2 separate regions of the Homo sapiens genome follow, and region 2 is linked to region 1. The links come from fine-mapping of genetic effects on gene expression. A gene starts in region 1. The other region holds a variant in brackets. All regions are shown on one strand. Distances are between the middles of the regions. Region 1 holds the start of IL17RA (interleukin 17 receptor A). Region 2 overlaps IL17RA (interleukin 17 receptor A).

The links.
Region 2: its variant is fine-mapped to the expression of IL17RA in whole blood (TOPMed, PIP 0.91).

The regions. Positions count from the first base shown.
Region 1 is chr22:17,073,107-17,088,169 of GRCh38, reverse strand. IL17RA (interleukin 17 receptor A) reads right to left here and starts at 3,170. Exons shown (of 13, transcript NM_014339.7): 1 at 2,941-3,170. The coding sequence starts at 3,078. RefSeq lists silencers at 2,388-2,637, 2,678-2,777, 3,028-3,147, 3,168-3,387, 12,998-13,057 and enhancers at 3,941-4,110, 11,668-11,837.
Region 2 is chr22:17,105,869-17,119,246 of GRCh38, reverse strand. It overlaps IL17RA (interleukin 17 receptor A), which reads right to left. Exons shown (of 13, transcript NM_014339.7): 11 at 13,293-13,378; 12 at 11,479-11,520; 13 at 3,554-10,940. The coding sequence ends at 9,427. TMEM121B (transmembrane protein 121B) reads left to right here. Exons shown (of 1, transcript NM_031890.4): 1 at 1-2,950. Among named protein-coding and RNA genes, the nearest start is that of TMEM121B, 8.8 kb to the left of the region's middle. RefSeq lists enhancers at 11,091-12,290, 12,248-12,467 and a silencer at 13,237-13,378. The variant G/A (reference allele first, on the strand shown) is at 9,538.

The DNA.
Region 1 (15,063 bases):
CAGCCTGCTTTCAATCTCACCTTAGCACTCATTAGCTGTGCGACCTTGGGCCAATAACCCAGCCTCTCAAAAGCAGGTTCATCCTGCCAACCTTGTAAGCTGTCGTTGAGTATGGGATGAAGGAATACTTGTGAGCCACCGGCACAGTGCCTGGCACAAAGAACACAACTTTGTAGCCTCTGGAAGAGTGGCATGATGAAAGTGGCTTCTGGCAAGCAAAAGATAAAGGGGTTAAACTGAGCAGCTGTTCTACAACCACAAGTCAAAACCGCAAACGCTCAGGAAAAAAGACTCTGTAATGAAATACACATCCTGTCTATGAAATTACGTGTTAACATTTACCCTGACCAACTCTTAAGTTGCTGCTGTCTTTCCTATGGGCATTCCTCCAGGCTGGCGGTCATGGGAAACCTGCATGAAGCCTAGGCAGCGAGAACGGCTAACCAAAAGGAAACTCCCAGGGAAATGCAATTATTGATGGTTTCTCGTGTAATGATTTCTGTGGGGAAATCAGTCATCTGGGTTTTGAGGTGCTAACCCCAAGCATCTGGAACCATTGCTATGGTTGGTCTCAGCTTGCCACTACCTTCCAAGCAGAGCTGACCGTTCTTTCCTTCATTCATGCATTCTTTTGTTCAGTCAACACATATGTATCAAATAGCCCCCGCATCCTGTGCTCCAGCACTGAGCTAGGAACAGGCCAGGTGTGCAGAAGCCTCCTCCCTGTCTGAGGATAGTTATGGAAGGCTAAATCGAACTGGGCTTTGGACAGACACTTACATTCTGGAAGGTGGCATGGACTTACTTTGAGAAGGCTCACCCAGTCCTGCCTTTGTGGAAATGAGGGAACCCAGGCCCAGGCAGCCTCAAAGCCCGACTGCAGAGACAGTAAGTGCGATGCTGCCTGCAAATCCAGGTCCTCTGGCCACCTCTGTGGCCTTCCCTCCCCTCACTATACCACATTGCATCCACTAAAACACCAGTGAGGGACAGAAATTTGAAGGATGTGTTTTCTTTCTTTTTAAAAGAACTAGTCAATGGAGCCCAGAGCTGTCTATCTCTGGAGAAGAGCTGTCTGTGAGGCAGGTGTATACAGAAGAGAGAGAGAGGAAGGAAGAGAACGAGAGACTGCAGACAAATATGAACAGCAAGTGTCTCTCTTCAGCCCTCCCTGGAGCCAGGCCGTGCTTCTGCTCCTGACTTACAGTTGCTTCACTGTGCAGTGAAAGTCAGAGCTTGGCTCCCACGCCACGCACAGCAGAGTCCCATCCCCGCTTCTGGCATCTTTTCTCACTGTCCTATTACACAGACCCTCCATTCCGGCCACACACCGTACCCTGTCCCACTTAAGGACCTTGGCTCAGGCCCTTTCCACCACCTGGAATGCTCCTGCTACCCCCACAGGGCTGCCCAAATGCCTTTTCCATGAAGGACACCCCAACTGGAAGCAATTTTTCTTTTTCCTGGAATTCCGTACACTTAGCAGTTGTGCAAGCAGCTTTGCTAGACAGTTCCCTAACTTCAAGCCTTGTTCCTCCCGTAGATGGGTTAGGTCTCTGGATATTAGGGTCCCCAGAGTATTTATTTATAGTTCCAGTTCCCAGTATGGCGCCCTGTACTCTGCAGGCACCTGACCAATGGCTGTCAACCCAGGCGCACCAACCCTCCATATCAGAACGCTTCATACACAGCCTGCAGGAGGGACTAGCAGGGCAGAGGGACCTGCTTTGCCCAATAGTGGAAGTCACAGGACATTTCTCAACATCATTCACGATAAAAACATCTTTTTTTTTTTTTCTGCGACATAGTCACTCACCCTCCACCTTCTTTCGGTAAATCCTCCATAAAACTACATAAGGAGAAATATCCCTTTGTTTTACATCCTCTGACTCAGATACTGAGCATTATTCCTTGGGGTCAGCGGTGGAGGTGGAGGTGGAGGTGGAGGGGAGGAAAGATCCCCTCGGGGATGCGGGGAAGAGGAGAGTATATTGTGGAGGGGCACGGCGTTTTGCTCTTTTTTTGTTTTTTTCCTTAAGATGGTCCTGGCTCACAGAAAGGCCACTACCCGGCAGGCGGGTGGGTCACTTCCTGTGGGCGCAGCGGGGCTACGACTTGACAGCTACAAACGTTCGACCCTCCGACTGCGCTCTCACCGGGTTCCCAGACCCAGGTGGTGGTAGTCGGGGGTGGGAGTGGCGGGAAGGGCGCCGTCTTAAGAACCATCTGCCCATCCTCAGGGCTTCGCGCCTCTGGGGAGGTGGCCCTCAGCCGCCCTCGGCAGAGCTCTCCCCGAAACATGGTGCCGCGTCTCAGCGCTCCGGCCCCCGCGTGGCTCTACGACAGCGGGGTCCCTCTGGGGGCCGCGGGTGAGGGACTCCACCTTCCGCACGGACGACGTGGGCTCGCCCGGCTCCGTCGGCGGCATGAAGGGCACGGCTTGAGGGAAGCTCCCGAGGGCGCGATGGGCCTCCCGAGGGCCGACCGTGCCCCGCCGGGGTACGTGAGGGGCGCAAGGCGTGGAGCTGGGTCCAGACCCGTCCTGGCTCCTCCCCGGGCCCCTTCTCCACAGCCCCTTTCTATCAGCCCTGGCCGCCCCTCCGGCCTGGCCCAGCGCCGCGCCCTCCTTCCCCGAACTCCGCGGCCCGGGCGGAGGTGTCACTCCCGCCTCCAGTCACGACGGCGGGCCAGGTTGTGCAACACGCGCCGCGCGATGTGCCACCCACCCCCCCCGTATTCCACACCGCAACTCCCACCGCTCCGAGGGTCCTCCCCAGGCGCCGCGATATCTGTGCCCAAGGCTCTGAGCCCCTCTAAGCCCGCGGCGCGGACTTCCTGCCTCCCCAGCCCGGGCGCGTAGTCCCGACCGTCCGGCCCTCCGCGACCTTGCCCCGCGTCCGCAGCATCCTGGCGGCTACCGCTCCCCACGTCGAGTCTCACCGGCTGGGAGCAGACCAGCGCCCGGTGGTCCAGGAGTCGCAGGGAGGCGCCACCCGGGGCCAGCACGCCCAGGAGCAGCAGGAGCAGCCCCAGCAGGGGCCCCGGGACAGCGGACGGCGGGCTGCGTGCGGCCCCCATGGCCCGGCTGGCGTCGCGGAGGGCTCGGCCCCGGCTGGGGACGCAGCGAACGAACGTTCTGAGGCTTTCTTTTCCGCGGTGGAGTTCGAGTCGGCTCCACTTTGCTCGCTTCCGGCTTCCAGCCCGGGCCCAGGGGCGGGCCGGGCCGAGGGGAGGAGTTTAGTCTGGGACGGGGAGGGGTTTAGGGTGAGACAGGGCCCTCCCCCCGTTCCTCCTTGCGCCCCTCCTCTCGGCCCTACGCTCAGTCCTCCGGGCGTCCCTACCCAGTCCTTCCGGCGTCCCTCCCCGGCCCTCCTCCGCCCGCGCGCCCCAGGTGCGCTCCTCCCGCTGCTCCTGGGCCTGGCCCGTCGCGCCTCCAGTTGCACCCGCGTCGGGCTAGCGTCAACTCCAGCTGGAGCCTCGCCTGCCCCACATGCACCCTCCACCCTGGCCGTGCCGCAGCAACTGTCGATTTTAATCCTCCGCCCCCACTCACTTGATTCTTGGCCCTGTTCAGACTTCTTGCTTCTCTTGTGGGTCACTGGACGTGAAATCCCAACTTGGGATTTCAGGAAGTCCGTTTTCTTAGTCTCTGTCCCTTTTATTTTTGTTTTTTATTTTACTTTATTTTTAGACAGGGTCTCCCTCTGTCTCCCAGGCTGGAGTGCAGTGGTGCAACCGCAGCTCACTGCAGCTTCGGCCTCCCGGGCTCAAGCGATCCTCCTGCCTCTGCCTCCTGAGTAGATGGAAGCGCGGGCCATATCCCATTTTATTGTCCCCACCCCTTTGCCTGGTTCTGCTCGCTCTGCTTTCCTTGGCTTTGCTTTCTCTTTCTCAAGACAAGGACAGCTCCGGGCTCCAGGGAGGATGGGACAGCAGTCACTTCCAGCCTCCTGGCTCGGACTCGGGGACACTTGAGTTCCTGGAGGGCAGGCAACTTACCTGGTCTGTGAGACTGTGTCCCAGCCGCACCTAAGAGAGTCGTTACTTCCCAGAGGCTCACTCCACGGCCGCGGAAGCTGTCGCCAGCGAATTACACATTTCATGAGTCTCCTTCTTAGCACGCGTGCAGCCTGCGTCCTCTCCTCTCCGGACCCTGGAGGACCCTCCCAAGCCGGCCCGCGCTGCCTCTATCCTAGGTTCCTGCTTCGAGCCCGTCCTGCCCTAGTGCATCCACACGCTCCTGCCCATTCGCCTCTCCTCTCTTCCTCCCAAGACCACCACCGTCCGCTTTTCCTTGCCTATCAAGTGCGCCTCTGCCTGGCCTTGACACGCACGGAGTCTACACTCAAGTGGCTTTTCCCTGTATTTTCCACTGCCCTCGAGAGGTGGGTTTTTTCGCTGCCCGAAGCACCCGCTGACCCCCAGCGACATCTCTATGAGCCCCGCCCGCAGACACGACCCAGCTGAATGAAGCCTGAAGCTCAGTGGCCTTCAAATTGTCTGTTTCTAAAAGAATTTTGGAAAACTGCATCCTCTCATGCATTTTAAAGATGACATCTAAAATTCTCCATCCTAAGTCTAAATAGATGTAGAGGATGTAACTGTTACTTAAAAATCAGCGGTTGTCGTAGGCAGCTTCTAAGATGTGTTCTAGGATCCCACCCCCTGGGAGTCACGACCTTCTGAATCCTCCTCGCGGAGTGTGGGATGGACCCAGAGGCTTGGTTCTAACAATAGAATATGAATAGAAGAAGACAAAAATGATGGGATGTCACTTACAAGATTAAGTTACAAAAAGATCCTGACTTCTGTCTTGCCCAGCCCCTCCCTCTGAGCTCCTAGCTCTTAGGGAAGCCATGCTGGGGCCCAAGTGGCAGAGAATGAGAAAGGCCTCTGCCCAGTGCAAGACACTGAGATCTTCATTTCATCATTGCCATTATTAGTACATAATTGATAAAAAATAATGTAAATATAATACATGTTAATAAGTAATTAAACATGAATTACTTGAAATTCATTTTATTCCTAATTAGTTGATGTATCTGTGAACAAATATTGCTTATTCATAGAACAAAGCAACATTCAGCATTTAAGAAATATTTTATTTTTCTTCTTTTTTTTTTTTTCTTTTTGAGATGGAGTCTTGCTCTGTCATCCAGGCCGGAGTGCAGTGGCGTGATCTCGGCTCACTGCAAGCTCCGCCTCCCGGGTTCAGTCCATTCTCCTGCCTCAGCCTCCCGAGTAGCTGGGACTACAGGCACCTGCCACCACGCCCGGCTAATTTTTTGTATTTTTAGTAGAGACGGGGTTTCACCGTGTTAGCCAGGATGGTCTTGATCTCCTGACCTCATGATCCGCCCGCCTCGGCCTCCCAAAGTGCTAGGATTACAGGCGTGAGCCACCATTTTTCTTCTTTTTAAAACATTGAGACAGGGTCTCACTATGTTACCCAGGCTGGTCTTGAATTCCTGGGCTCAAGTCATCCTCCTGCCTCAGCTTCCCAAAGTACTAGGATTACAGGCACGAGCTACCACCCCAGGCTAAAAATATTTTAGATGTAAGCCTTAAAAAATTGCTTACATAAATAATTATATTTGTCTCATCAATTCTTTGAACCCGTTTTCAGTCATATGCAAAGATCACATAGCCATCTTGTCACCTTTTTTTTTTTTTAAATAGGGTCTCACTAAACGGCCCAGGCTAGACTCAAACTCCAGGGCTCAAGAGGTCCTCTCATCTCAGCCTCCCAAGTAGCTGGGATTACAGGTTTGCACCACTGTGCCCAGTCAAATATTTTTGATTTGGCAACTGACAACTTGATTGGGTCCTCCTTCAATTTTAGTAAGGCAATATTTGGAACCTACCTCACTTGCAAAAAAATAGATGTCTATCTATCTATCTATCTATCTATCTCTGTATATCGATATGTGTATATACCTATCCTGTGATCAGAGTCCTATTACACAATGGTATCTGGTACTGTTGCTATGTCTAGTGCCCAGGGGCTTTTTAAATTTTATTTTATTTTATTTATTTTTTTTCTGAGATGGAGTCTTGCTCTGTCGCCCAGGCTGGAGTGTAGTGGCAACCTCCGCCTCCCAGGTTCAAGCAATTCTCCTGCCTCAGCCTCCTGAATAGCTGGGATTACAGGCACATGCCACCACGCCCAGCTAATTTTTGTATGTTTAGTAGAGATGGGGTTTCACCATGTTGGCCAGGCTGGTCTCGAACTCCTGACCTTGTGATCTGCCCTCCTCAACCTCCTAAAGTGCTGGGATTACAGGGGTGAGCCACTGCTCTGGGCCCCCAGGGGCTTTTTTACACATTCTAAAATGTGTCCCCCAAATTTCACATGTTAGAAACTTAATACCCAGGACTGATGAGAGGCCTACCTTTCTTTTGAAAGTGGGAGAAGGACAAGTAGGAAACAAAAGTGTGGGGAAGGAAGGGAGCCTCCACCCACACCTGACATCTTCACAGCTGGTACCTTTCCTGGCAGGCAAGTGTCTGGAAGAGGACATGGGGATGTTGAGATTCTGGAGGTCCATTCCCTTCAAATCTATTCCCTTCAAGCCAGGGCCAGCAAGTTTTTTTTTTCTGGAAAGTATCAGATAGTAAATACTTCAGGCTTTGCCAGCCATATAGTTCTGTCCCAACTATTCAACTCTGCCCTTGTAGAAGCCATTGACAATATGTAAACAAAGGAGTGTGTCTGTGTTCTAATAAAACTTTATTTATGGACACTTACATTTAAATTTCATATAATTTTCATTTGTCCAAACATATTATTTCCCTTTTGATTTTTTCCCCTGACCATTTGAAACTGTAAAAACCAACTTAGCTCCCCGGAGGGTACAAAAACAGGCAGTAGAACAGATTTGGGCCATAGGCCCTAGTTTACTGATGTGTGCCCTAAACTTTCCAAGGCGTGCCCCTTGGAAAGTCTTCATGTAACCTCAGGGTAATGTGTACTCTCATTTGAAATTGCTATCCTGGTTCTCAACTCTGCCTACGTATTAGAATCCCATGAGGTGCTTTTTGAAATACCAGTGTACAGCCACACCCTTCCACACTGATTCTGTTGGTCTGCGATGGGGTCTGGGCATAAGTATTTTTGAGTTTCCCAGATACATCTAATGTGTAGCCTGACCTTGGACCACTGTTCTAATTGCTATAGGCTCTGCACACCTCTCAGGGCACAATGCTGCTTTGTGCTGTTGTTACTGTATTTCATCCAATGATCCAAAATCATTGAAAGATAAAGCCTAATTTAGGAATTTTAAAATGTAGAAAATGGGTGTCTTCAACTGGATGAAATATAGTTTTTCCCTATCTGTAAGATTGGTCCTCACTGATGGTAAGTACCCCGGCTTCCTCACTCCTGTGTTGCTCTCACCTGCAGTGCTTGGCTGGGTGTGAGGTGGTCTGTGAATACTTGCCAAGCGCATGTCAACATTAGGCTGCTTTGCTTATTGCTTGTTCTCTGGGTTCTTACTTTTCCCCTGACAGAGCCTCATCCTGAGGAGATAGTAGATATCCAAAAAAATTTTTTTTGATTCATTGACTGATTATACAAGGAGCAATAGATTGATGTCAGGAATCAGAGTCAGGGATTGGAGAACTTGGTGGTGTCTTTGGCTATGAGAAAAGGGAAATGGCCACGGATTTCATTCCAGGACAGTGAGAGAGGGGACAGAATATCCTTTGCCATGAGAAAGATGGGGTTAGGAGCTAGTCTCTGATTGACTGAGCTTTCTGTGTCCATTCTCTGAAATGATGTTGTTTATTTGACTTTTCCTCTGTGTCCTCTGCTAGTATATAATCTCAGTGAAAGAAGAGACTGCAAATCATTTTTCACCATTGCTATTCTTTGAATGTATCCCCCAAATTTCACATGTTACAAACTTAATCCCCAAATTCATATGTTGATTGGAGGTGAGGCCTTTGGGAAGTAATTTGAATGAGATCATCAAGGTGGGGGCCTCCATAATGGGACTGGTGTCTTTATATGAAGAGGAAGATAGGCAGGGCACGGTAGCTCATGCCTGTAATCCCAGCACTTTGGGAGGCCGAGGCAGGCAGATCACTCGAGCTCAGGAGTTCATAGACCAGCCTGGGCAACATGGTGAAAACCTGTCTCTACCCAAAATACAAAAATTAGCCAGACGTGCCTGTAGTCCTAGCTGCTCGAGAGGCTGAGGCTTGAGCCTGGGAGGGAGGCAGAGGTTGTGGTTTGCTGACATTGTGCCACTGCACTCCAGCCTGGGAGATGGGAGTGAAATCCTGTCTCAAAAAAAAAAGAGTAACAGACCTGAGCTGACCTGCACACTCTTACCCTCTCTCCCTATGATCGCCTCTGCCGTGTTTTGACACAGCAAAGAGGCCCTCACCAAATGCTGGTGCCATGCTCTTAGACTTCCTGGCCTCTAGAATTGTGAGCTAAATAACATTTTTTTTCTTTATAAATTACGCAATCTATGGTATTCTCTTATAGCAACAGAAAACAGACTAAGACAACCATATTCCCAGTGCTTAGAACAGCCTCTGTCTCACAGGAGATGATCAATAAACGTGTTTTGAATAAACTGTTGAATAAACGTGTCAACTGAGATTTACTAAGTTCAAGAGGGGTTTTTGTGGGCGGAATTTTTTTCCTTTTTTTTTTTTTTTCCCCAGACAGAGTCTCACTCTGTCACCCAGGCTGGAGTACGGTGGCTCCATCACAGCTCACTGCAGTCTTAACCTCCTGGGCTCAGGTGATCCTTCTGCCTCAGTCTCCCAAGTATGTGGGACCACAGGTATGCGCCACTATGCCTAATTTTTTTTTTATTACTTGTAATATGTAATATCTGTGTTTCCCAGGCTGGCCTCAAACCCCTGGGGTCAAGAGATCCTCTCACGCCTGGCCTCAGAAATTTTTTTTATGACAACTTTTATTTTTATTCTTACATTGAGTTACAACACTTAAATTGTAGTTCTTCTCAAGCATTATTTATTATTATTATTTTTTTGAGATGGAGTTTCACTCTGTCGCCCAGGCTGGAGTGCACTGGCGTGATCTTGGCTCACTGCAACCTCCACCTCCCAGGTTCAAGCGATTCTCCTGCCTCAGTCTCCCGAGTAGCTGGGATTCAGGTGCCCCCCACCACGCCTGGCTAATTTTTTGTATTTTTAGTAGAGAGGGGGCTTCACCATGTTGGCCAGGCTGGTCTTGAACTCCTTATCTCATGATTCACCCACCTCGGCCTCCCAAAGTGCTGGGATTACAGGCGTGAGCCACCGCACCCGGCCTTTGTTTTTTTTTTTTTTTTTTTTAGAGACAGTGTCTCACTATGTTGCCCAGGCCGGTCAGCTGATCTCAAACTATGACCTCAAGTTACCCTCTTGCCTCAGCCTCCTGGATACCTGGGATTACAGGCACTAGCCACCATATCCAGTCTTCAAGCTTTTAAATTCAACTTACAAAGCTTGCTAGTTTATTTATTTATTTAGTTGCTTACTTATTTATTTGAAACAGGTTCTAGCTCTGTTATGCAGGCTGGAGTGTAGTGGCACAATCACGACTCACTGCAGCCTCAACCTCCTGGGCTCAAGTGATCCTCTAGCCTCAGCCTCCACAGTAGCTGGAACTCCAGGTGTGCACCACCATGCCTGGCTAATTTTATATTTTTTTTGTAGAGACAGGGTCTCACTATGTTGCCCAGGCTGACCTCAAACTCCTGGGCTCAAGTGATCCTCCCACCTCAGCTTCCCAAAGTACTGGGATTACAGGCATGAGCCACCATGCCCAGCTCCAGTCCATTTATTAATCTGGTAATATTGGTATAAAATAAGAACAATCACTTTTACTTGTTCTTTAATTCATGTGCTATTAACTCATAAATGTAAGAGACTAAATCTTCCTTAAACACTTAACACTACTTCAAACTTGATTCATTACATTTCCTAAGACATTTCAAACCACATCGCAAATTTTATGTGCATGTTTCTCTTAAAAGTTTCAAATGCTGACTGCTAGACTTACAAATTTAATACAAAAATATTTCTAAGCATCTATACAACACCTGAAAAAGCTAATAAATCAAACTGTTAACAAGTTGTAATAAGTTATTAAAGTAATGGCCCTCAGTTTGTTCACACCAATTCTCCTGCCTCAGCCTCCTGAGTAGCTGGGACTACAGGCGCACGCCATCATGCCTGGCTAATTTTTGTATTTTTAGTAGAGATGGGGTTTCACAGTGTTAGCCAAGATGGTCTCGATCTCCTGACCTCCTGATCCACCCGCCTCGGCCTCCCACAGTGCTGGGATTACAGGCGTGAGCCACCGCGCCCGGCCTGCCTAGACCACTTATCTTAGAACACAGGACTTTCCAGAATCCTGATTTTCAGAATGTGGCTGAGAGATGTCAGCGCCATTTTTCTGAGAGGTGAGCTCTTAGCAGAGATAGAAATTGTTTCTTTTCTATTTTTATTTCTAAGAGGAATTAGAGTTAGAGCCAGAGAGAGCTATTTAATTAAAAGGATGGGAGGCCAGTCCAAGGATTGTTAAACTGAAGTCCATAGATAGGCTCTAGGAAGTTTGTAAACACTTGGAAATAATTTGAAAAATGTTTGTGTGAGTGTGCTTTTCTCTGGAAAGAGAGTTCATAAGTCTCATCAGATTTTTGAAATAGTTTTGGCATTAACAAAACTAAACCAAACCACCACCACTACACAACCAAACTACAACACTGAGGCTCTGATAGAGAAATTTTGTGACTCATGCCACACAGGTAGTCAGTGGCAGAGCCCAGGATAAAGAGAGCCAGATGGTGTGCTTGGTAAAGAAGTTAGAAGTTTTTAGCTCTCAGGCTAGGGGGTCTTCCTGTTGCATGAAGCCAGACTGAGAATAATTACATGCAGGAATAGCAATTAAATTTATATTTTAAAGAAAAGGTACATTGGTGGGGTGTGGTGACTCACACCTGCAATCCCAGCACTTTGGGAGGCTGAGGTGGGCAGATCACTTGAGGTCAGGAGTTCGAGACCAGCCTGGCCAACATGGTGAAACTCTGTCTCTACTAAAAATGTAAAAATTGGCCAGGCATGGTGGCTCACGCCTGTAATCCCAGCATTTTGGGAGGCCAAAGTGGGCGGATCAGGAAGTCAGGAGTTTGAGACCAGCCTGGCCAACATGATGAAATTCCGTCTCTACTAAAAATACAAAAATTAGCTGAGCGCGTGGCATGGTGGCGGGCGCTTGCAATCCCAGCTAGTCGGGAGGCTGAGGCAGGAAAATTGCTTGAACCTGGGATGCAGAAGTTGCAGTGAGCTGAGAACGCGCCACTGCACTCCAGCCTGGGTGACCCAGCAAGACTTCATCTCAAAAAAATTAGCCGGGCGTGGTGGCGGGTGCCTGTAATCCTAGTTACTCGGGAGGCTGAAGCGGGAGAATCATTTGAACCCAGGAGGCATAGGTTTCAGTGAGCCAAGATCACACCACTGCACTCCAGCCTGGGTAACAGAGTGAGATTCCGTCTCAGAAAAAAGAAAAGAAAAGAAAAGAAAAGGTACATTGAGATTTGAAGAAACAGAGGAGAGGGTTGTAGGTGACTGACTAGAAATAATGTTACGGGAGGAAGAGTGAATGATGTGGTGAAGGGTATAGAACTATGAGAAAGTCCTTGTCAATCACATGGCTAGAGAATGGTGATCACTGAAAAGGAGGTAAAATATAAAAACATTTGCAGAATATTTCTCAATCGAAAATTTTACTAGGGGTTCTAAAATGGTGCTGCGGAAGCAAGCTGGCTTTACTTCCCCAACAGAAAACTGAAAAGAAACACATAGCACCAAGATCATCACCAGCAATGTTCCAGAACTCAAATATGAAGATGAGAGTTCCTGGGGCCACATATGAAAAAAACTTTGAGACATTGTCAAGAGAATCAGACTTAAAGAAAATTTTTTTTAAAGACGGGGTCTCGCTCTATTGCCCAGGTTGGAGTGCAGTGGCTCACTGCAACCTGTACTTCCCGGGTTCAAGCAATTCTCCTGCCTCAGCTTCCTGAGTAGCTGGGGTTACAAGTGTGCGCCACCACGCGTGGGTAATTTTTGTATTTTTAGTAGAGACAGATTTCACCATGTTGGCCAGGCTGGTCTTGAACTCCTTACCTCAGGTGATCTGCCTGCCTCGGCCTCCCAAAGTGCTGAGATTACAGGTGTGAGCCACTGTGCCTGGCTGAGACTCAGACTTCTATATCCATCATGCCCCTCCCTCAAATCTGCCCCACACCAAGCGTGCAGAAAACTCGCTGACTCATGCATTCTTCACTGGAAAAAGTGAGATCGAGATGGCCAGCCAGCTTCTCCATCATCGTGGGTTCACTGGCAGGAAACCTGTCCCTGACTCAACCCACAGAAAGCAACCCACAGAAAGGTTGAGTCCCTGACTCAACCCACAGAAACTCAACCCACAGAAAGGCACAGAAAGAAAGTGTGCCTGGAATAAGAAATATCCCAGAGGACAGCCAGAGACAGAGTAGGGAGGCAGGACCACCATCCCCAGCCCTGGACACTCTGCTCTAATTTGGCCAAAGGAGACAGCAAATCAGCGTGGCTGTTAAGCAGCACCATGTGGTAGGTTTGTTCCACAGGTCCCCTGGGCACAACCCCTAACCATCCTTCCCACACTACTGAAATGTCCCCTTTGAGACCTCCCTTATCCTGATGGGTGGCACTCTTTTGTTTTGAGATGGAGTCTCACCCTGTCACCAGGCTGGAGTGCAGTGGCACGATCTTGGCTCACTGCAACCTCTGCCTCCCGGGTTCAAGCGATTCCCCTGCCTCAGCCTGCCGAGTAGCTGGGACTACAGGCGCGTGTCACCACGCCCAGCTAATTTTTGTATTTTCAGTAGAGACAGGGTTTCACCATGTGGGCCAGGATGGTCTTGATCCCTTGACCTCGTGATCCGCCCACCTCAGCCTCCCAAAGTGCTAGGATTACAGGCATGAGCCACAGCGCCAGGCCGGGTGGCACTAATTGCTTTCCAGAACCAAGGCAAACCTGGGCTTATGCCACCATCTAGTGTCAAAAAGGAGGCAGTGACCTAGCTGGAAAAAAAGAAAAATAAAATAAATAAATAAATAAATAAAACCAACAGGTAAATTAAAAATAAAAACCCCAAGCAAACATATCAAATAAAAACTGAAACAAGCCAGACAGAGAAGATTGAAATAAATAACAAATCCTTTAATGCAAAGACATAGACTCACATCACAGGAAACAATAGCAAAGAAGGAATCATGACTCCAAATGGACAAAGTGAGGAACCAGTGACTGACCTTAATGAGTCAGCAATCTGTGAACCTCTGACCAAGAATTCAAAATATCTGTTTTGAGAAAACTCAGTGATATCCAAGATAACATACAAAAGTAATTCAGAAATTTACAAGAGAAATTTAATACAGAGATTGAAATTTTGAATAATCAAACAGAAATCTTGGAGCTGAGAAATAAATTCACTCAACTAAAAAATTCATGGCCAGTCGTGGTCGCTCACACCTGTAATCCCAGCACTTTGGGAGGCCAAGGTGCCTGAGCTCAGGAGTTCGAGACCAGCTTGGGCAACATGGTGAAACCCCGTCTCTACTAAAATACAAAAAATGAGCTGGGCATGGTGGCATGCGCCTGTAGTCCCAGCTACTCGGGAGGCTGAGGCAGACGTATTACTTGAACCCAGGAGGCGGAGGTTGCAGTGAGTCAAGATCATGCCACTGCACTCTAGCCTGGGCGACAGAGTGAGACTCTGTCTCTGAAAAAAAAAAAAAAAATCATTAGAGGCTCTCAACCAGCGAAATGAATCAAGCAGAGGGAAAAAACCAGCAAGCTCAAAGACAGGCTTCTAAAAAATACACAGAGGAGCAAAAACAAAAAAAGAATAAAATGCAATAAAAATTGTCTCCTAAATATAGAAAATTACCTCAAAAGACCAAATCTAAGAATTCTTGGTGTTCAAAAGGGAGTTGAGCAAGAGCAAAGGGTGGAAAGCTTATTCAAAATCAAACACGGACACTCAAAAAACTTTCCAAACTTGAGAAAGAGACAAATAGCCACATACAAGAAGATCAGAGAACACCAAACAGGTTCAACCCAAATAAGACTACCAAAAGGCATATAATAACGAAATGCTCAATGGTCAAGGGTAAAGAAAGGATTCTAAAAGCAGCAAGAGAAAAGAAGCAAATAACATATAAAAAAGCTCCAATTTGTCTGGCAACAGATTTCTCAATTGGAACTATACAGATCAGAAGGGAATGGGATGGCATTTTCAAAGTGCTGAAAGAAAAAAACTGCCATTTAAGAATACTGTATTGGAAAAGTGTCCCTTCAAATATGGAGAGGACATAAAGTCTCTTCTGGACAAACAAAAGATGAGAGTTCACTACCACCAGACCTGTGTTACAAGAAGTGCTAAGGAGAATTCTTCAATCAGAAAGAAAGAAAAAAAAAACACTAACATGCAAAAAGAAAATATGTAAAGGTATGAAACCTGCTGGTAAAATTAAGTACATGAACAAACCCAGAATACTCTAATACTATAATTTCAATGTGCAATCTACTCATAACTAGTATGCAGCCCAAAAGACAAATCTATCAAAAACAACAATACCTACAGCAATCTGTTAGGAGATGGACATTATAGAAATACACATACATTGAGACAACATAAAGTCAGAATGTGGGGGATGGAGTTAAATTGTAAAGTTAAACTCTTTTTTCCGTGTTCATTTTTATTTTCTTTAAGCTGTTATCTCTTTAAAATAACCTGTTATATCTATAAAATGTTTTTGGTAAGCCTCATGGTAATCACAATGCACAAACCTGAAATAGATTCATTAAAAATAAAAGCAATGAGTTAAAACATACTACCAGAGAATATCACTTAACCTCAAAGAAAGACAGGACTAAAGAAAGATAGGAAGAAAGAAAGAAAGGAAGCAAGGAGTTACAAAACGATCAGAAAACAAGCAACAAAATGGCAGTAGTAATAATATCAATAATAACCCTGCATGTAAATGGAC
Region 2 (13,378 bases), 32 kb before region 1:
TGGGGTGAGGACGGCTTGGAGGGAGACCAGCAGTTAACGGTGAGGGAGGTAGGTGCACTTACCCTCTCCTCTCTTCTCCTATCCTACCCCAATCCTGACCTCCAAGGGGCTGGTACCTCTGCTTCTTGCTTTGCCCACCTCCACTCTAATTCCCATCCATTAGGAGGAGAGGGGTGCTGGGCCTTGGACCTTCTCCCTTGCTTAGAAGTGCCAGCCTCTTTTAGGCTGTGGTTAGTGGCCATTGTCCCATGCCTTGAAATTGACCCAGAACCCACTTTCCACTGATGTGTCTCTTGGATTTCTTCCAGGTGATAGATACAAAGTGTATGTCTCTGTGTGTGTAGTGTTGTTTTCTCGTGTCCACCCTGTGGCCCTTTGCAATGGGTAGGAGATCTGGGGAGGCCCTGCCCCCTACACCATACTTATCACCACCCTCCTCTTTTCTGCCTGGATTTGTGACCATGAATTCCCAGGAAGAGCTGGGCCCCTGGGAGCTGCCCAGGTACTCCCCTTGAAGGGAGAATCTCACCCAGGATCTTCCTCAATACTGCTCCTCTCTTCTCAGCTCAGGGAGAGGAGGGGATCCATTCTCTAAGGACCAAACTGCACCCTTTCTTGGGTGAGTGAGCATTTCTACCTCCGTGCTTTCAACTTTTGTTGCATCATGCACTGATGCTGCTTGCAAAAAATGAAGACAAAATACTCAGAAGTTGCATTTGCCATGGCCACTGGCTCCAGCTGGGGTTTGGTGCCAGTGTTATTACAGGGTCTGCGGAGTATCAGCCATTGGCTTGGCCTCTCTCTGTTCCTCCCTCTGCACCTAGAACTCTTATCCTTCCTGTGGTTTGGTGCCGACTGGGTCGGATCTGGGCTTAGAGTAATAGCTTTGGTGGGTTTCCTGGATGGATGTGAAGTTGGGCCTCCCATGGGCCCAAGGGAGTAGGAAGCCCCATTCCCCACCTGTCCTTCCTCTAGGAAGTGTAGATCAGAAAGTGAGGTGGTGACCTCCCACCTCTGGTCTGGTTAAGAGTCTCACTAGGGCCAAGGCAGGCTGCAGAACTTTCCCTCTTCCTCTCATTGAGGGTGATGACAAGAGACATCCGGGGACTGTGCACTTACAGTCGGTGTGGAATGTCACTCTTGCAGTCTTTGAGGCAGGATAAGTATTTTTACATATTTTAAGGGTGCAGGAGGACAGCAGCTAACAAGGCCAGGAAATACTCACTTCCCTCCACCCTCAACAGGATGTGGTGGGGGTGAAACTTGAAGAATTTTTGTTTCCCCTTCTCCCTTCTTACGTTTGGGAAGTTTTATGTAGTGTAACAAACTCTAGACGAGTTACCAGAAGATGTGGATTCTAGTTCTGATTCTGTCACTCATTGGCTTTGAGTGACATATTTTTATTTCCTGGGCCTGTTTTCTCACATTAAAAAAGTAGAAGTTAGATGAGTGATCTCTAAGGTTGAAGGTAATTTCAGCTCTCACATTCTTTTGAGTTTGTGGCTCTTGAAAGCCCTGGTCCTGATGCTCCCTGTAAAGGTGGCTGGGAGAGAAGCCAGCCAGGCTGCACTTGCAGAACATTCCCTGCTCTGTACTGGGTGTGTGAAGCCCCAGCAGAGAAGGCCGGAGGGAGGGCTTGGGTGCCTGGGCTGGGTGTGGGGCAGGGCCTGGCACAGCTGCAGAGTGCACAGGGAGGGTCAGAAGTGCCAAGTCACTGGCCGTTAACTCAGCACCCAGGCCAAGCCCCCGCCTCCCACTTGAAGCCCCCTCTTACAACTGTTTTGGGGGCTTGGAGCAGAAGACACCCTTGTAGACAGACATAAGAGGGGCAGAAGGCTTGACCAGAGTTCTCTTGAGCCTCCTCATGCTCTCAGAGCAGGGAACAGCGGGGGAAAATGTTTACACTCCATGCACAATCTGTGCTTCCAGTCCCTCACCCTATGTGGCCCAATAGCTGGCTGGATTTCACACTTAATTGGTATTTTTTTCTGCCTTCTTCCCCTGCCCCCACTGACTCCTCTCCTCTCCCTTTGATTGTACTCAAGGTTCTGGGGCCTGGGCCCTGGGTGGGTACCAACAGCTGCTCGCTGTTCCCATGTCCTCTCTCCAGCTTTGCTGTGTTTCTCTGCTACCTAATCTCAGTGACTGTGAAAGGACATTGTGTCTGAGCCATGGCCAGCCGCTGGCTGGCCCCCTGATCTGCCCCCCTTCTATTGTTTGGATGGCCATCTCCTGCTGGGCCTCCCTGACTGTAAAATCTCTGTACTGTTTGTTAGGTTTTTGGTGGGAGGCTGTGATAAGTTCCAATGAGCTGCCACTTCCCTGGATATGTCAAGAAGCTGATGGCAACTTGGCCAATTCTGGCAGATATCAGGCCCCCAGTTCAGCCCCAGTCACCCTCTTTTACACATGTGGGTCAACCACTGTGTGCTCAGAGGGTCAGTCCCTTCCTCTGCTGTGTTTTTCTTGAGTCCTTGCACTCACTTCCCCTGCCCCAGTCACGATGACCCCTAAAGCTTCCTTTGCCCTTGCTTTCTAGGGCATCCCTAGTGAAGGGGCAAACCTGAGATTTCTCCGTGGACCTGACAGCCAAGGCAGGGCACTGTCTCCTGAGGCCAGTGCCAGCACGTGCATGGTTCACAGAAAAGGATCCTGGGCTCAGAATCTCGAGAACCGCCTGCTCCTAACAATTCAGCAAGTCAGGGGCTTCCTCTCTGTTAGTCCCCAAATCCTTACTTATTTTAAAAAGACTAGACCCTCTCTAAAGACTGTTCCATTTTAACATGTCCTGATTCTGCATCCGTGGGTTTTGTGAAAGAGAGCTAGCTGGCGGTTAGAGCCTGGAAGAAGGAGGGAAGTGGCACCTCACTAGCATTTATCACTTTTTTCCTTCTCTTTTTAAAAATAAAACCAGACTCTGTTCTGAAAATAAAAAACTTGAGACTTGTGACAAGCTTCCTGTGTGGTTTGTTTTAAGATCTTTTCTGTCCTGGTTTCCTTACAAAATTCTTAAATGTCACTGTGACATTCGCCATTATTTTATAAGTTTGTGTTAACATTATGGGTACACCTTGGCCCTTCTAGGCAGTTGGCATGTTTTTCAGGGAGGCAGTGAAGCTGTGGCCTGGAGCTGGTGAGTGTCTTGACATGCTTTGTTGGCACAGCCAGCTCAGCTCTAATGGACTCAGCCTGAGAACGATTTTTTCTCATCACCCTCGGCTCTCTCTCACTTTTCTTTCCTTCCTTCTTTCTTTTTCTTTGTTTTTGAGACAGGGTCTCACTCTGTCACCTGGGCTGGAGTGCAGTGGCGCCATCATAGTTCACTGCAGCCTCAACCTCCTGGGCTCAAACAATCCTCCTGCCTCAGCCTCCCAAGTAGCTGGGACTACAGAAGTGTGCCACCACGCCCGGCTTCCCATTTCTTTCTAAAAGAGTAGCTTTCCAAAGGGGGAACATCTTGAGAAACTAATTTTTAAATACTGTGCCCTCCTCTATCACTCTTGCCCCAGCCAGAAGCACAAATTCTTACGTATGAATAAGAAGAACAAGGCCATGGGTTTTTGTTTGGTTTTATTTTAACATGAAGGGTAGTATTAAGTCTAAGCAAGAACACTGGGCCTGCACCAAAATAAACAAACACACAGTGATTTTTTTTTTTTCTTAGCACAGAGGCAGCCAGTATTACACAGCCCCTCTCTGTGTTGTGACCCTAGCTTGCTGCTTCTGGCTGTGCCAAATGCTAAGCAGGCGTTTCACTCAGGGCAGCCCGGGAGGCAAGGTCTGAGAGTGGAAGCTCCTGGGAGCCTGAGCTCTCTCTGCCTCTCGTTAGCTGTGGCTTTGGCCATCAACTGGAACTATGTCATTATTTATAAAACAGGAGCAATCACAGGGCTGTGGTGAGAATCACATGAGGTGACACATGTGAAATGGTCCTTTCCCCTAAGACATATATAATTGTAACAAGGAACAAAATTTACATAGAAAATAATTACAGAACAACGTAGGACCATGTCTTCATTTCTCCCTGGAGCGGATGTAAAATAAGGTGATTGATTTGAGCAAGCATGTTATGAATATTTAGAAATGTCTTCTAGGGAAGCAAGCTGGCGCTCACCGATTTTGGTTTGCCAGGCATATCAGAAGGCACTTTGTGACAGGTGCAGTAGGGACGCGGAGTGATCTCTTCACGTGTAGGCAATGCCCAGCCCACACCTAGGCCTTGCCTGAGTCTGGCCATGCAGTTCTTGCCCTAAGGAAGAACAGGAAAATATAGCGCGTGGTTGACTGTCAGGCCCTCTGCCCCTTCCCTCGTCACAGCCACCTTCAGGGCTGCTTTCTCTCCATTTTCCTGAGGCCGAGAAAGAGGAGGTAGCTGGCACAATGCCACATTGCAGTCAGGAAGAAAAGCCAGTGTGCACCAAGGCCCTTCTTCCTCCCACATCTGCACTGCTCCAGGCAACCTTCGGTAGTCGGCTGTTGCTTGGGTCCAGCTTCCTTTCCATGAAAGCTCAGCCATTCTAGCAAAAAAGCAGGGGCTGTTTTCATCTTCTGAGAGAATCCCATGACACTGGTGAGCAGAGGCGGCCAGTGGGACACCCGTGCAGGGAAGCAGGCAAATGCAGGGACCAGCCACCCGCATCCCTCCTTTCTACTCCCTCTCCTCCTCCTACCTGGTCACTGTGTACCTTCTTCCTGTCTCATCAGAGAGGAAGGATCCAGTGAGCGAACTCATCTTATAGTCAATGACCTAAGGGGTTATTCCTCCTGGGAAGGACTCCAGGGGGAGGTGGGCTGGGCCAGGCTTCCTGGCACACTTCAAACCATGAGACAGGAGACTGCATGTTCCTCCCACAGGCAAGACTGGCCCACCCGGGTGACTGCCTGCTTTCATCAACCTAAATGGACAGGGCGAGAGTGTGGACCCAGTGCTAGGATCTGGGAGAGGCGATGGGGCATGGAGAGCCATGCAGAGGTGGAGGGCAAGATGGACCTGGATGCCATTTCAGAGTGAGGGGAGGCCCCGTGGGGAAAGCGTCGGGTACAGAATTAACATGAACAGCTTGTGCAATGGGTTTAGGGGTAGCTGCTTTTCTTCATATTCTTCTATAAAATATACCCATGGAATCCATATTGTTGCCATTTTTCCACAATGGACATGTTCACTCAGCCAAGTACTTCCTGAGCTCCTGAGAGACGCCAAATATGGGAACACATATTACTTCTATAATCTGAAAAGGCAAACACCGGAGGAAGAGAGCAATACCTAATAGCAGGGAAAGAGGATCAGTGGTACCTCAGGGGGCACAAACTGCTCTGCCCCAGAAGCAGGCTGGTGCCACTCGGGGATACTGCAGGCTTGCCAGGACCCCATGAGGTGGGAACTCCTGCCCCACCCACTTTACAGATGAGCAAGCTACCTAGGGCGGACGAGCAGCTGGCCAGCCCCCAACCCTGCTGCCTCTTCTTTGTAAGGATCCTCTGTCCGACACAGTTGACTTGTGGGATGCAGGCCCGGCTGCTGGAGCAGCGGCCCTCCATCTCACTCTGTCCTCAGGTGCCCCGGGCCTTGCTGGAGTCCCAGCTGGCAGGGCGCTAAGGCAGAAGAGGGCCCTGCATACACCTCATTTATTTAGGAAGGGGAGCACCAACCACAGAGCCCAAAGGCTATAGAGTTAAAACCACCCACTGCATTGTAAGTACATCTTCTTCTCTCTTATGCCCTATTTAATTTTCAAAGATAAACAGGAAAGGCCAGGCACGGTGGGCTCAGGCCTATAATCCCAGCACTTTGGGAGGATGAGGCGGGCAGATGGCTTGAGCCCAGGAGTTCGTGACCAGCCTGGACAACATGGTGAAACCCCATTTCTACAAAATATATACACACAAATTAGCCGGGCACAGTGGTGCACGCCTGTAGTTCTAGCCACTGGCAGGCTGAGGTGGAAAGATGGCTTGAGCCTGGGAGGTCGAGGCTGCAGTGAGCCATGATTGCACCACTGTAATACAGCCTGGTGACAGAGAGACCCTGACTTAAAAACAAACAAAAAACCAAAACACAACAAAAGCAAGAAAGAAGTATATCCATCATACCCTTGCATTCAGAGATCCCAGCTCAAACTGCTGAATGGATGTTTCAGAGACCGAACACCACCCTTTTTAGACCCTAAACACCTTCAAGGACCTTCCTATGCAGAAAAGAGAAACTGGTTTTGAATCAAAGTAATTATTCCTTAAAAAAAAAAAAAACAAAAAAAAAACTAGGATCAAGATAGTAGGCAGGAAAAAGTCATGAAACTCTACGCGGGAGTTGGGAGCTTGTTGGTGGCTGCGTGCATAATCGGCCTGGACACAGGCATGGTTAGATGCTCCGCTGCTTCTTTCCCAACCGGAACCACCTCTGCACACTCAGGAGACGAGCTGAAGAGGTGGGAGGGGCACAGCGTGGAGGGCACCTGTTCTTAGAGAGACATTTCTTGGTGAAACAATTTATTAGCCATGGTTCAGAATAATACAAAAATAAAGGTGTGGCTTTATTTACACACACTCTTGAAGCTCTTGGCATTCAGCGGACAGCAAACACCATACTCAGAGTGATGGAATTAATAGCATTTAGGGTAAGCAAGGACCAGTGTGAGACTGGGCCCAGGAAATGGGGAGGGAATGTGAGGAGAAACAGGGAATGACATTAAAGAAGAAACAGACACCTTGGAGAATTTATGACTCCTTTCTCTATGTCATGTCCAGAAGAGGCAAGTCTACAGAGATCAAAGTAGCCTAGGGGTGCCTAGGGATGGGGAGGTTGGGGTGGTGACTAAGGGGGGCTGGATTTCTTTTGGGGGTAGTAAACTCTAAGACTGACTGTGCTGATGGCTGCTGAACTGTGACTATACTAAACCGGCATCAAATTGTGCAGGGTCAATTGTGGATTGTATGGTAAGTGAACTGTACTCCAATAAAGCTGTTAGGAGGACAAAGGCAGCTGCCCTGGAGATAGTAGGCAATGCCCATCAGGACATTTACTGGCATGGGCTCAAAGGCCAGCAGAGCTAGAATTCAAGGTTCCTGAGGAATGGGAGCAGATGGGAACATGTGCTCTACGCAGGAAGAGTGCATTGTGGTATCCTGTACTCTGGGCGTCAAACAGTTATTTATTGGAAGCTAGGGAAAGGTCACAGAATGCATGGTAGGTGTCCAGACCCAACGAAGCCCCTCTCCAGGATTATTGGAGAGACTGAGCCCAAAAGGCTAGTGGCTGGGAGGCTTCTGCTCCTGTTCTCCTTTGCCTGGTCCTTTGCTGCTGTTGGGTGGATTATGGGCCATACACCATCTGGGACACAGAGCTTTGGTGGCCCTGCTACCACTAGGTAAAGTCTAACTGCAAGAAAAAACTCCGCAACTAGCAACTTCTTGACCTACAGTAAGTGGCTCGACCTTCCTGCTAGAAACTCTTACCAGATCAACAAATTTATGCACTTTTATTGATAATCTTTCACGCACATGTATGTGTGCGCACACACACATGCAAACTGTCCTGTTTGCTCTCCTGTCACATTTCCGAATCTTCTCCTCCTCACTGGAGGTTGGAAATATAGTTAAGGACTCAGGCATAGGAATGAAGGGCACCCTATTCCAGTGTCAGACGGCACCTCAATGTGTTCTTCAGGACCCTGAAGCCAGAAGCCTCTAGCCTACCCCCAGGAGGTACTTCAGGAACAAATTCTTCAAACACTGGCTTCAGAGCCTCTTTTCAAATGCTGTCTTTGGACCTCAGACCCTGAAGTCACAGCAGCACCCCTTCCCCACACAAGGTCTGCCCAGATCTTCACTGACCCACCACCCCTCATTTCCTTGCCCTTGCACCCTGGGGCTTCCTGAGCTCAGGGGAGCTCCAGCCCAGCTGCTCTGAAGAATCCTACGTGCTAACAGCTCCCCACTGATAGTCGGAACGCGGGTGCAGGGCTTCAGACTCACCTTCCTGCCAGATGCTTTTACGTTTCACCTCGACATTTCTCTCTTCCTATAAATGAACTCAGGTGACATCCAGCTGTGTTTAGCCCTCAGCCTCTCTCCATGCAGAGGCTCATCAGACGAAAGGTGCCCCAGGCCTCAGGACTGATGCGCACAAGGCTGTCCCCACCCCTGAGCTCTGGCGACATCCCCCCACCCCCCACCCCGATCTCTCTCACTGCCTCCCTCCTTCCCCTCCAGGCTCCACCAGCAGCTCCCTGACAAGCTCACTCCACTCACCTCCCAGCACTTACCCACAAACTGCTTCCTTGCTGGGACTACGCTTTCCCCAACCACAATCCTTCAGCTCAGGCATCTCCTCGGGGATCCCCCCTGACCTGGGTGCCTTTCCCGTGCATGCTCACAACCCTGGGCAGGCTTCCACTCCATCTTTCTACTTTTTTATTTTTTTTGAGACAGGGTCTCACTCTGCTGCCCAGGCTGGATTGCAATGGTACCATTATAGCTCACTGCAGCCTCTACCTCCTGGGCTCAAGTGATCATCTGGCATCAGCCTCCCGAGTAGCTGGGACTACAGGCATGTGCCACCATGACTGACTAAAAAAAAATTTAGGTAGAGATGAGGTCTCACTATGTCGCCCAGGCTGGTCTTGAACTCCTGAGCTCAAGCAATCCACCTGCCTCGCCTTCCCAAAGTGCTGGGATTACAAGCATGAGCCACTGCACCTGGCCCATTCAGCGTTTACATCCCGCGTGACCATCTTTTTTTTTTTTTTTTTTTGAGATAGAGTCTCGCTCTGTCATCCAGGCTGCAGTGCAATGGCACAATCTCGGCTCACTGCAACCTCTGCCTCCCAGATTCAAGCAATTCTCCTGCCTCAGCCTCCCAAGTAGCTAGGACTACAGGCATGTGTCACCATGCCCGGCTAATTTTTCTATTTTTAGTGGAGATGGGGTTTCACCATGTTGGCCAGGCTGGCTCAAACTCCTGACCTCAGAGTGATCCACCTGCCTCGGCCTCCCAGTGTGCTGGGATTACAGGCGTGAGCCACCGTGCCCGGCCCATCCTGTTCGTTTAACGTGTCCTCGGCACTAGCGGTTAAGTTCCTTCATGGCTGGGGCCATGCCGCATGCAATTTATCTTGGTATCCCAAATGCCCGCCACATAGTAGGTGCACAATAAATGCTGAATGAACGAATAATGGAGCCTCAAGGACGCTCTACCATTAGCTCCTGGGAGCGGGCTGTGTGGATTCCCCTGGGGATAGACGATAACCAGACCGCTGCACAAAGAAAAGTTAGGAGGGATGCCTGGGATTAAAATCCAGACATTTACATTTTAAAGCCTACATTTCACACACGAACATATACACATGCAGACATGTACACACAGATGAATACGTGCACACACACTCCTCTCTCAAAGCTGGGATCTGGGCGGTCCCTGGGGAGCCGCCCTCATGCACTGGGCCCCTCTGACTCTGACCCCATCGTGTCCCAGCCCGAGTTCTTCTGCAGCTGGCGGAAAAGCAGCTGCCGCTGGAGGCTCCTCAGGCTCTCCAGGTCCTC[G/A]GGAGAGAGTGGCAGGGCCGGCTTCCCTGGGTCCTGCTCCTCTTCCTCCTCTTCCTCCATTTCCGTGAGTCCCTCGGGGGGCTGCGGGGAGCTCCTGGAGATGTAGCCCTGGTCAGACTGCACTGACTGCCGCTGCTCCTCCTCGTAGGGCGTGTGTGGGTCTGTGAGGACCATGGCGGGTCTACTGCAGCCCCCCTGGGCCTGGCAGCTCAGACTCTGCTCGAAGAGCGAGAGCATCAAGCCTTCGAGGTGCTCCCTCACGTCCTCTGGAAGGAGGTCAGGAGACGCCATGGGGGTGCTGCTGCCAAGGGGCGAGTCCTCGGGGTCCACGGGGAGGAAGAGGACGCTATTTCGCCCAGCGCCCGGGCTGCCCAGCAGCGGGCAGGCCTCGCCCTCCCCCGCCAGTGCCAGCCGGACTGCGGCACCGTCAGCCAGGGGCCCAGGCTCCACCGCGGCCACCAGGGCCCCCTCCTCTGCGGCGAGCACCAGGGTGTGGAGGGGCTGCGGCGCTGGCTGACCCCGGGGCTGCAGGTGAGGTTCCAGCTTTGCCACTGCTGCTCCTCCTTCCTCCCCGACCAGCGGGTCTATGGCCAGGCAGGCCTGGGAGCCAGGCTCGCGCACCAGGGGCGCCCGCTTCACGATGCCGGTTCCCGGAGGCAGCAGTGGCTCCTCAAACACCTCTTCGTCCAGGGACGGGGCATCCTGGTCATCTGCTGAGTAGAGGTTCTCACATTCGAACCAGTCGGGACAGCGGACCTGCCAGTCCCGGAACCTGTCCAGGGCGGCGCGGAGCTGCCTGCCGCCCGGGCTCCGCAGGTAGTTGTCCCCCGACAGCTCCCCTACGCGGTGCATGCGGCCCGGCTGGAACATCTCCAGGTCCTGGATGCGGAAGTACACCTCCTCGAACCTGTCCATGAGCGGGTACCGCGGCGCCGCGCCGAACAGGTCGGGGACGTCGCCGTCACAGCTGACCTCGCTGAAGTAGCAGACTACGTAGGTGCCGAAGCAGGCTGGCCTCTTGAAGTCCGGGAGGATCATGTTCATGGCTGCAGTGAACAGGTCCCCCACGGGCTTTCCGTGGTCGCAGCGCAGCCGCACAGGCGCCCCCCGGCCCAGGAGCGCCTGCCACTTGGCGCGCGTGCCGCGGGAGCACAGGACGATGATCTTAGAGTTGCTCTCCACCATCTCCTGCTTCTGACGGCCCACCCAGGTCATGACTCCTGCCTCCGAGATGGCCTGCTCTTCCAGCAGGTCCAGGGCCACTTCCGTGCCGCAGGCGGTGAGCAGGAACTGGGCGAATTTCAGGACCACGTCCACGTAGAGGGGGTGGTCGGCTGAGTAGATGATCCAGACCTTCCTGGGCTTCAGCGGTGGGGGGATCAGGTCAGCCGCAGGCAGGCCATCTAAGGAAACAAGACCACACATGCTGACCCTCACCCCAGGGCCCAGGGCAGCTCTGTGCCTGCCAGCCCAGGAGGGGCCTGGACCAGGACACAGAGCTTGGCTCCCTCCCTAAGCTGAGAAACCCAACTGAGGCCTGTTGGAAAAACCCAGATGTTACTATTCCACCTTTGGCTGCCTGAAAAAAATCAGTCTGCTGCCTTGTGGGAAAAAGAATCTCTCAACGTTCCTAGCTGGTCTTTAGCCTATACTTTAATTAAGAAAAGAAAAAGAGGCACCAAGCTCTGTTGGTCTGCTCCAGGGAGGACCTCTGTTCACAAAATACTTACCTTTCTTTCCTTGTCTGAGTGATTCAAAAAATGGCACCCAGGCCTTGTTATTGGGGGCCCTTCTGAGTGGGGTACTGGAAGGGGGTTTCTAAGGTGGGGTCTCCTGAAGGGACTTGGGAGTTAGAGCACAGGAGGCGACCCACGCACTTATCCCAGGAGAACCCTCCACTGCTTTAAAAATAAGCAAACATGCAAACCAGGAAATACTGACCGGTGTATTTGGTGTCATCACTGTATTTTTCACTTCCAGGCCCTGGAAAGGAAAAGAAATACACTGGAGTGGTTCTTTGGGAAGAGAAATAGAAACCAGCTCACAGGGTGTCTGCCCCATCCCTGACAAAGGGTGAAGGGTAAGGGGGCAGCCCCGAGACTGAGCAGCGAGGCCGTGCTAGGTGGTCGCACAGGCATGAGTCCTGGGTCTGCCACTACGAGCACTATGACCTGGAGCAGTTACTAGTGCCTCTGAAATGCAGCTTCTTCCTCTGTGAGGTGGGTCTGTATTTGCTCTTGTTTAATGGGTATTAAATGAGTGTGTGTATGTGACGTGCCTGGCACGTTGTACATAATCAATTGGGATCACAGTTATTTTGTAGCACTGATCCAGCTGGGACCCCCAGTGCCGGGGGGCAGGGGGTGGTGTCCATTCTGGTTCCTCATTACGGTCCTGGTCTGCCCTGTCTCCCTGAAATTTGGCCACCCCAAACTGACTCCACATGAGGAAAAGCTCTTCCCCAGAAGTGTCTTTACAGAAGACATGCATCTTACCACACTTCTTTCCAGAAGCAGCCCCACCAGGCTGCTTGCAACATTTCCTCCTGGTATTTTTGAGGTGAGGAAGGGGAACCCACATACTTAAGCAATTGTTCCCCTCAGAGATGTGATGAAAAAACTGCTCTGCGGGGGTTAACTCCTTAGTGACAGCTGGGAGGATTGAGATCCACAGATGACTGAGCAAACGACTTAGAACCTTAATCTCAATCCTAACCCTTTCAGCTCTTCCCCAGAACTGTCACAAGACAGCCAAATAACAGCGAGGCTCCTCTTGCCTTCACCCTGTGGTGCAGGACACTTCGGAAAACAGAAGCGCAACAGCAGAAAGGAAACCAAAAGCGCCGCCGCCGCCCAGCCCCAAACCTTTAGAGAGCTGCACCGCCTGTGGAGCACTGGCCGAGATGCTACTGAATGTTATTGGAACCTCCCATAGGTCCTCCCATGCCTGGCTGGTTTTCTTTCTACCACATAATAATTAATAATGATTAACACCTAATCCTGACGAGCCTAGGGAAGGGTGGAAACAGCTTCCCAGATGACGGAAGGAGCAGCCTAGGGTCATGGTGGGGCAGGCAAGGGCTGAAGCCCCAACCGGAAGGCCTGTGTTCTCCCGGCTTAGGACTTGGCCAGCAGAGGGCTGCAGGTGGGAGAAGACACTGGTATGTACTAATCCCCACCAGCAAGCACCTTCCTCAGCTACTCATTTAACCTTCGTCACACCCTTAGAGGGAGGCATTATCAGTACATTTTACAGAAAAGTGAATCCATGGTGTATTAAGTAACTGGCCTGTGACTACAAGGCTAATGAGGTGGGGCTGGGGTCCACCCCTGTGGCTCAGGGCAGCCGGAGCCTTCTCTATCACCCGATGCTGACCCTCACTATTCTCCCTGACCCCAGGCGTCCACGTCTGGCGGCTGCAGGATGGGGTTGTTCAGGCTGCTCCACCTGCCTGGATGATCATTCCTGACACAGGGAAACTTTACTCCGGCTCCTTCCAAACTATTGATTTTAATAATACTACATTTGATAACAACAAATATAATCGTGGCTAACAGATACTGTGCAAATAGCACATGCCAGGTTCTGTGCTAAGAATTCATGTGTCTTATTTCACTCAGTCCTTACAACAGCTTTATGACGTGGTTCTCAAGCAAGAAGCTGAGGCTCTGAGAATAAAGCGATTTGCCTTGGTAGTGAGTGGTGGTGCTGGTATTAGAGCCTGACTCCAGGACAGCCAGAGCCCCAGCGCTTACCAGCTAGCCTCCAGGTCATGCAGACGATGAGCAGGATGACGGAGCCCACCAGCAGGATGGAGATGCCCGTGATGAACCAGTACACC